Homo sapiens: one gene and its partner. The protein of the gene in region 2 purifies or fractionates together with the protein of the main gene of each other region. This does not show direct contact. Each region holds a gene or a part of one and is shown on either strand. Other genes may lie near its edges. The genes, in order: FAR2 and ZP2.

Region 1 (3,828 bases), on a different chromosome or scaffold from region 2:
CACACACAGTGGCGCAATCTTGGCTCATTGTAAGCTCTGCCTCCTGGATTCACACCATTCTCCTGCCTCAGCCTCCCGAGTAGCTGGGACTACAGGCACCTGCCAACATGCCCAGCTAATTTTTTGTATTTTTCGTAGAGATGGGGTTTCACCATGTTAGCCTGGATGGTCTCGATCTCCTGACCTCATGATCCGCCCGCCTTGGCCTCCCAAAGTGCTAGGATTACAGGCATGAGCCACCGTGCCCGGCCTCCCATCTTACTCTTATTGGTGTTAAGTGCTTGGTGCTATGGGAAGTCAAGTCATTGACTGGGGCTAGTTAGAAGAGGGAAGAAGGGAAAATAAAGATATATGAGCATTGTATATTTACACATTGGGTATCATTACTGAAAAATTGCACAAACTCCAAGTTGCAACCGGCCAAATATTGCTCAAAGAGTAGGGAGTACTAAAATTTGAGGGCTGGTACTATAACTTGTTTTGCATTCTATTTGCAAAGCTAAACACCCTGCCTGGCACATAGTAGGTACTCAGTAAATAGTACAAATGAATAAATGAATGAATGGAATGGAATTGTCATGGGATTTGCAGTCATAAGATGTGGATACTAGCCTTGATGCACCCACTAACTAGATGTGTGACAAGCCACTTTACGTCTTCAGGACTGGCTTTTATTTTCTTTAAGAGAATTGAACCAAATATAGATATGGTACTTGAACATTCTACAATTTCCAGTGTGAATATACTTAGTTAAGACAAAGCTATTTGCACTCACTACTATGTACTGTAGACAAGATGGTGTGATATGTGCCAACATATAGTATGTCTAGGAGTTCAAGGAAGTCTAATTTGGGAAAAGTTTGTTCTGTCCTAAAAGAAACTGAGACCTAAATTTATCTAAGTGTCATCCTGTGATCAGCAATGCATTCAGCGGCACTTGCATAACCATTGCCTCCGGCAGGACTGCACCAAAATAGCAGAAGGAAAAGAAGGAAGAGGCAATGTCACACTTCTGCTAAGAAGAGAGTTATGGCAAGTACAAGTTGCTGAGAAAGAAGCAAACTGCTCATTTGGATGAAGGAAATTAATTCTTTGAAGCCATCAAAGATTCCTGCAGCTTTGAGAATAGTTTGGTAAGTGGATCTCAATCCCCAGAAAACTCTTTGGTAAAAGAACAAGTGCCCATCTTTTAGATCATGTGCTTAGCTTCAGGGCAGATATGTCCTGAAGGTCTTGTGTAAACAAAACACAAGTGAAATAATATTCAATTCAAAATGAGACAATAGTTACAGTGAAATAGAGAAATACAAAGTTGGTTTTTTTACTTATTATTATTTACTGACATCAAGTTGGTTTCATTAATATTTACTTAATATCTATCAGAAACAAATATTATTTTAAGTAAACAGTTTCTCTTAAGTTTTAGGCAAATTGCTCTATGATTTCACTAACTGAATACCATCCATCTTTAAGATGCTAAAACTATGTTACTTCTATCCATACAACTTTCAGTATTAAATATCCTTTATTGAAAATAATAAGCAAAAATCTTTAATACATGCACAAACACTGACTTGTTACAGTTTCTTTTACTCAGTTTATCCATTTCTTCTGGGCAGATTCTTTTGGTTTCTTGACAATACTGTGCACTGGTGAATCTAACTCTGCTGGAAGTGCTTAAGTGGTTTCAAATATGTTGGGACCAGACACATAACTTAATTGCCATCCTAATTTCCAAGGATCTTGCTTTCAAGGATACCTGGGATTTTTGCTCACTTCTGTGGAATGTGCCCTCACAATGACCTGTGATAAATAGTGCACGATTTTTAAAAAATGATCTAAAATGTGGGGTGTTTTTATAACTATTTCTCATTTCTTGGCTCAGGAAATATTATTCTTGCCTCCTATGGTCATCCTGTTATTCATCAGCAGATGCTACTGATCCAACAGCTTCCCAGCTAAGATGGAAGGATGAGTAAGTGGTTGGAGAAGCCATATTTTTGTCTTTTCTACACAAATTCACAGGGAGGAGTGTTTGCTTTCTCTTCCTCCCTTCAGGTGTGGGCTTCAATGTTTTGGGGCTGTCTCTGGAGAAGCCTGGGAAGTTAAAATGCCTTAAAAGCAAGATGTCCAAAAGCCATAGGGGATACATATTATCAACTGCAGGATGAAAAATGCTTTTGCAAACCTGCAGCAGTTAAGGATACAAAATGATCTAGGACTTCGAAATAATACAGCTAAATCAACAAGCAAATGTTATTCTTAGTGTCTGGCAATTACAGTAAGGCTTTTTTTTCATTGTTTAACCACATTGTTTAATCAATTTTCATTGTTTAATTGCATTGTTTAATCACATTGATACATATATATATATATATATATATATATATATATATATATAAAATGTTCTTTGCTTTAATACTGGTGTTGATTAAAGTGGGAAAATGTCTATTGAATGAAGATGTCACCTGAAACCAGTCCTCTTTATAAAGTTAGATATCTCACAGAAATCTTCCAATCAATATGGCTGGCAATGAGACCCATAATCCAAACTCTGTGATCACACAGCACACCCTCGTCTGAAAATATTTTATGACAGCAGTAACAGAGCCAAGCACCAGGTCTCGAAGGTCTTATTTTCTGACTCTACGTTCCATGGAAATACCTGGACTAGCTATTCCAAAATCTCCCCCTATGCTGTGGCAGCTACTTATGAAAGCCCTGGGGATCCTCACGCCAAAGATTCTGATTCAGTAGGTTTAAGGTGGGGACAGAGAAATTTGTATTTCTGTCACCCAAAATTGAGGCTGTCACCCCTAAACTACCACTATTCATATAAAAGTGTGCATTAATAATAAAAAAAGATTGGCTTCATTATTGAAATAAAAATCAGAGGCGACTACTCATAGGAAATCCAATCTGCTCAGAGGTAATAAAATAAAACAGTTAAGTTATATTAGATTTAATTTCCCCCTTACCTCTGGATGCCGTAGTTTTATTTATCTGAGTGCCTATCCTGTATATATGAGTTCAAATGTTTGAATAAAATTTACAAGTGATCACCTTTGCGACTGTCTTCTGCTCTTTACATGGGCATGTAGCGTTAGCAACACCAGCCATCAACAAAAACTGGCATTGTCACGACTCCAATGCCAAAAATAGTTTGTTTCATTTTTAAAATTAATATTATTTTAAATTTACAAGTTATAATTTCATACATTCAGAGGATACAGTAGCCATCACTTATCTTTTTTTTGGTGAGACATTTGAAATTTACTTAGTTATTTTTAAATGTACATTATCATTGACTATAGTCATTCCGCTGTGCAGTAGATCTCAAAACGAATGCCTCCTGCCTAACTGAAAATTTGAACCCTTTGACCAGTAACTTCCCCCCACCTCCCCACACCCTGCACCCCTACCACTTTTTGCCTTCAACCTCTAGTAACCACCATTCTTCTCTCTACTTTTATTTATGAGTTCAATATGTTTAGATTCCACCTAAAAATGAGATGATGCAGTATTTCTCTTTCTGTGCCTGAATGCCAATAATGTTTGAGGACCTACTAGGAAGTCAATTTAACTATTTTATTTCTATCCCCTCATAAATTAAATAAATGAAAAACAAAACAATTAAGATTACCTATGGCAGGTGAGTTTCATAGCCTTAGAGCAGGGGTCAACAAACATTTTCTGTAAAGGACCACAAGGTAAATATATTAGGATTTAAAGGTCATAATAATTGATTGGTTAGGGCACTAAAGCAGTCATAGCCAATAGGGATGACTAGACGAATGATACAAGCTGTTTTCTGATAAAACTTTATTT
Region 2 (3,828 bases):
AGGCTATTTTGGTGCTAGCAAATAGAAATCTGACCTATAGAAACAGGTGTTAAAAGGCAAACAGCAGCTAAGCAGTAAGGGTTTTTCTATTGCCAAGCAACAGTATTGCCCAATCAGGAATATTAGGAGCAATAAAAGCAACCTGTCTAAGCAGAAGCTAGCAAGTTGTAATTTGGAAAGTTTGGGTTTGACTAGTTGGACATAGGCCTGGGGTGAGTTCTGGGAATCTGCATATCTAACAGTCTATACCATCTGATTACGATGCAGGTGGTCAGCAGTCTAAGCTTTGTACAGATACAGTCTTAGACCCTACTCTGTAAACAGGCTTGAACTGTAAGTCATCTGGTCCCCTAAAGCCCTCTGTGATCAATCAATGAAGTAATCATAGGTCCTTCATGAAAAACCTGATAATTTCCTTCTAAAACAGACCTTCTCAACATTAGAGGTCTTGGAGTCGCATTCCCTTAGACTAAGGGTCTGCAAGCCATAACCTGTGGATGGCCAAACGCAGTCCATGGTCTCTTTCTGAGGCAGGCTTGCTCTGTAGCCCAGGCTGGAAAGTAGTGGCTGCAATCATGGCTCACTGCAGCCTAGAACTGCTGGGCTCAAGGGATTCTCCCGTCTCAGCCTCCCAACTAGTTGGGGCTACAGGCATGCAACACTATGCCTGTCTAATCTTTGTCTTGTCAAAATGGGGATTTCACCATGTTGTCCAGGCTGGCCTCAAACTTCTGGCCTCAAGGGATCCTCCCACCTCAGCCTTCCAAAGCACTGGGATTATAGGCATGAACCACTGTGCCTAGTTCATGGGTTTTTTTTGTGTTTTTGTTTGTTTTTGTTTTGGTTTGGTTTTCAAACTAAGAATGGGTTTTATCTTCTTAATCTTCTTGAGACAGGGTCTTGCTGTTGTCCAGGCTGGCATGCAGTGGCATAATCTCGGCTCACTGCAACCTCTACCTCCCGGACTCAAGCAATCCCCTACCCTATGTCTCAGTACCACCTCAGCCTGCCCAGTAGCTGAGACCACAGGCATATACCACCACACCCAGCTAACTTTTGTGGTGTGTGTGTGTGTGTGTGTGTGTGTGTGTGTGTGTGTGTGTGTGTTTAATATATATATAGAGATGGAGTCTCTCACCATGTTGCACAGGCTGGTCTTGAACTCCTGAGCTCAAGCAGTCAGTCTGCCTCAGCCTCCCAAAGTGCTGGAGTTACAGGCAATGAGCCACCATGCCCAGCTGGCTTTTATCTTTTTAAAGTTCTTTTAAGGAAATATGCTATGGATTTCATGTGGCTCACATGAGTCTAAAACAGTTGCTAATGCATAATGGAAAAAGGTTGGCTGACCCCTGCTTTTAGACTGAGTTTCCTAAGGTCAGGGGTAATAGCAAGGGTAGCTCTACCCAGCACAATGGCAGCTACTTAGGTGCTTAACAAGTATTCAGATAACCTGGGTAGAAGCCCCATACCAACCCCATTCAGCCAGGACCATGGTACTGAGACATAGGGTACACATAAGAGAAATAGAAACTGAACTCCATTTCCTGATGCTAAAACTGGCCTATCAGCATGAGTCTTCACTAACAGATTACAATGGGCTAGCTAGTCTCCTGGTACGGGAATGAGGTACCTTCCAGCACTTGTGGTATTAGTAACTTTAAGGGTTTTCCCACTCAGATGGGTCAGATGGTATTCTAGAATCCCATGGGGGTACAGTACTTACTCTGTTCCCACTGTGCTATCTGTACACAGCATGGTGGACACCAGATGACCATCAGAGTCATGAACAACAGTGCTGCCTTAAGACACGGAGCTGTCATGTATCAGTTCTTCTGTCCAGCTATGCAAGTAGAAGAGACCCAGGGGCTTTCAGCATCTACAATCTGCCAGAAGGATTTCATGTCTGTGAGTGAAACGGGCTGACTGCTCGGGGTATATGGCTACTGCAGGGGGAATATGATGATGATCTAACCAGGGCGGGGCTTAGAAATCAGACCATGATTTAATCCTGTACTTGCTAATTTTCTGTGTGATGAGGTTTAACTTTACCCTGAGGCTTTGTTTCCAAGTCCAAAGTGATGGGACAATAATGCTTACCTCAGGGTGGCTCTAAGAATTTACTGAGGGTATATACATGGTACTTGGCACATCATGCATGGCAATAGGGTTTTATTGGTAGTTGCACTCACACTAATCATCTGACAAATGGAATACATGCCATGTTCCAGGCCCTACCCTAGATGCTAAGATACAATAAGTGAACAAAACGACCCAGTCACATCTTCATGGGTTTAGAGTCTAACATGGCTAATGTCAACAATGGACAACTAAAAATAACACTGACATAAAAGCAACTCAATAACAATGATAGAACTGCATGGCTTTTACATAGTACCTGATTTCTATGGACATTGGTGAAAGGGCAAACGTTTAAGAACATTGTCCTGGTCAGGCATGGTGGCTCATGCCTGTAATCCCAGCAATTTGGGAGGCTGAGGTAGGTGGATCACCTGAGGTCAGGAGTTTGAGACCAGCCTGACCAACATGGTGAAAACCCATCTCTACTAAATACAAAAAACTAGCCGGGTATGGTAGTACATTCCTGTAATCCCAGCTACTTGGGAGGCTGGGGCAGGAGAATCGCTTGAACCCAGGAGACGGAGGTTGCAGGGAGCCGAGATTGCACCATTGCACTCCAGCCTGGGCGATGAGCGAAACTCTATCTTGGGGGGAGAAATGTGTCCCAACTTACAACTGGAAAGGAGCTTAGATCTTCCAGCTGCCTCTTGGGATCAGAAGTTCAAAGAAGTATAATGACATCTAAGGGCACAGTCAGGGTTCATGTGCTTCTTCCACTGCATCCCACAGCAGGCCTTTTGGTATGACAACCACACAGCAATTTCTGGCATGAATTCGGAAACATCTACCTCCAAATCAAAGTCTTACATCACAATTCTTTTCTTCCAGTTTTCCTTGCCACGGGTCTTCTCTGGCTTGGCTGACGACAGTAAGGTATGAAGCAAATTTTAAAAATCAGACCTTAATAACCTTTAATTCTATGTTAAAGGTGATATTACCTTTAACCTGATAAATTGTTAGACTACCAGAGACTTGGTTAAGGGAGCACCAGCCCTCTAAACAAAGCTTTTTGACTTCAGGGGACCAAAGTTCAGATGGGATGGAGCATTGAGGTTGGTGATGGTGCAAGAGCCAAAACTCTGACCCTGCCAGAGGCCATGAAGGAAGGCTTCAGCCTCTTGATTGACAACCACAGGATGACCTTCCATGTGCCATTCAATGCCACTGGAGTGACTCACTATGTGGTAGGTGTGGAAGTCTGGCTTTGTACCACCAAAGCACAGGCCAGTATTCCTAAATTGAAGCATGATCTCAACCATGTCTTCACATTAATTTATAATACAACCCATTTTAATGCCTATTAAGTGCCAAACACTTCGCTGGGTATTCACACCTGTAATCCCAGCACTTTGGAAGGCTGAAGCGGGCAGATCGCTTGAGGTCAGGAGTTCAAGACCAGCCCGGCCAACCCTGTCTGTTTAGTGAAACCCTGTCTCTACTAAAAACACAAAAACTTAACTGGGTGAGATGGTACATGCCTATAATCCCAACTACTCAGGAGGCTGAGGTGGGAGAATCGCTTGAACCCAGGAGGTAGAAGTTGCAGTGAGCCGAGATTGTACCACTGCACTCCAGCCTGGGCGACAGAGCGAGACCATTTCTCAAAAATACATAATCCTTACCTCAATCTAGTCTCTTTCCCATAGTCTTAAATCTATAGTACAACACAGAACAAGCATATTCCTGAAA

The links.
Region 1: the proteins of ZP2 (region 2) and FAR2 purify together in Homo sapiens (affinity purification with mass spectrometry; one large-scale study listed by BioGRID and IntAct). This does not show direct contact.

What each region holds. Positions count from the first base shown.
Region 1 is NC_000012.12:29,155,680-29,159,507, reverse strand, and holds part of FAR2 (fatty acyl-CoA reductase 2), read right to left. Parts: intron 1-3,828. UniProt on the Homo sapiens protein: Catalyzes the reduction of saturated but not unsaturated C16 or C18 fatty acyl-CoA to fatty alcohols (FAls). A lower activity can be observed with shorter fatty acyl-CoA substrates.
Region 2 is NC_000016.10:21,204,915-21,208,742, reverse strand, and holds part of ZP2 (zona pellucida sperm-binding protein 2 isoform 1 preproprotein), read left to right. Parts: intron 1-1,752; coding exon 1,753-1,905; intron 1,906-2,967; coding exon 2,968-3,012; intron 3,013-3,158; coding exon 3,159-3,323; intron 3,324-3,828. UniProt on the Homo sapiens protein: Component of the zona pellucida, an extracellular matrix surrounding oocytes which mediates sperm binding, induction of the acrosome reaction and prevents post-fertilization polyspermy.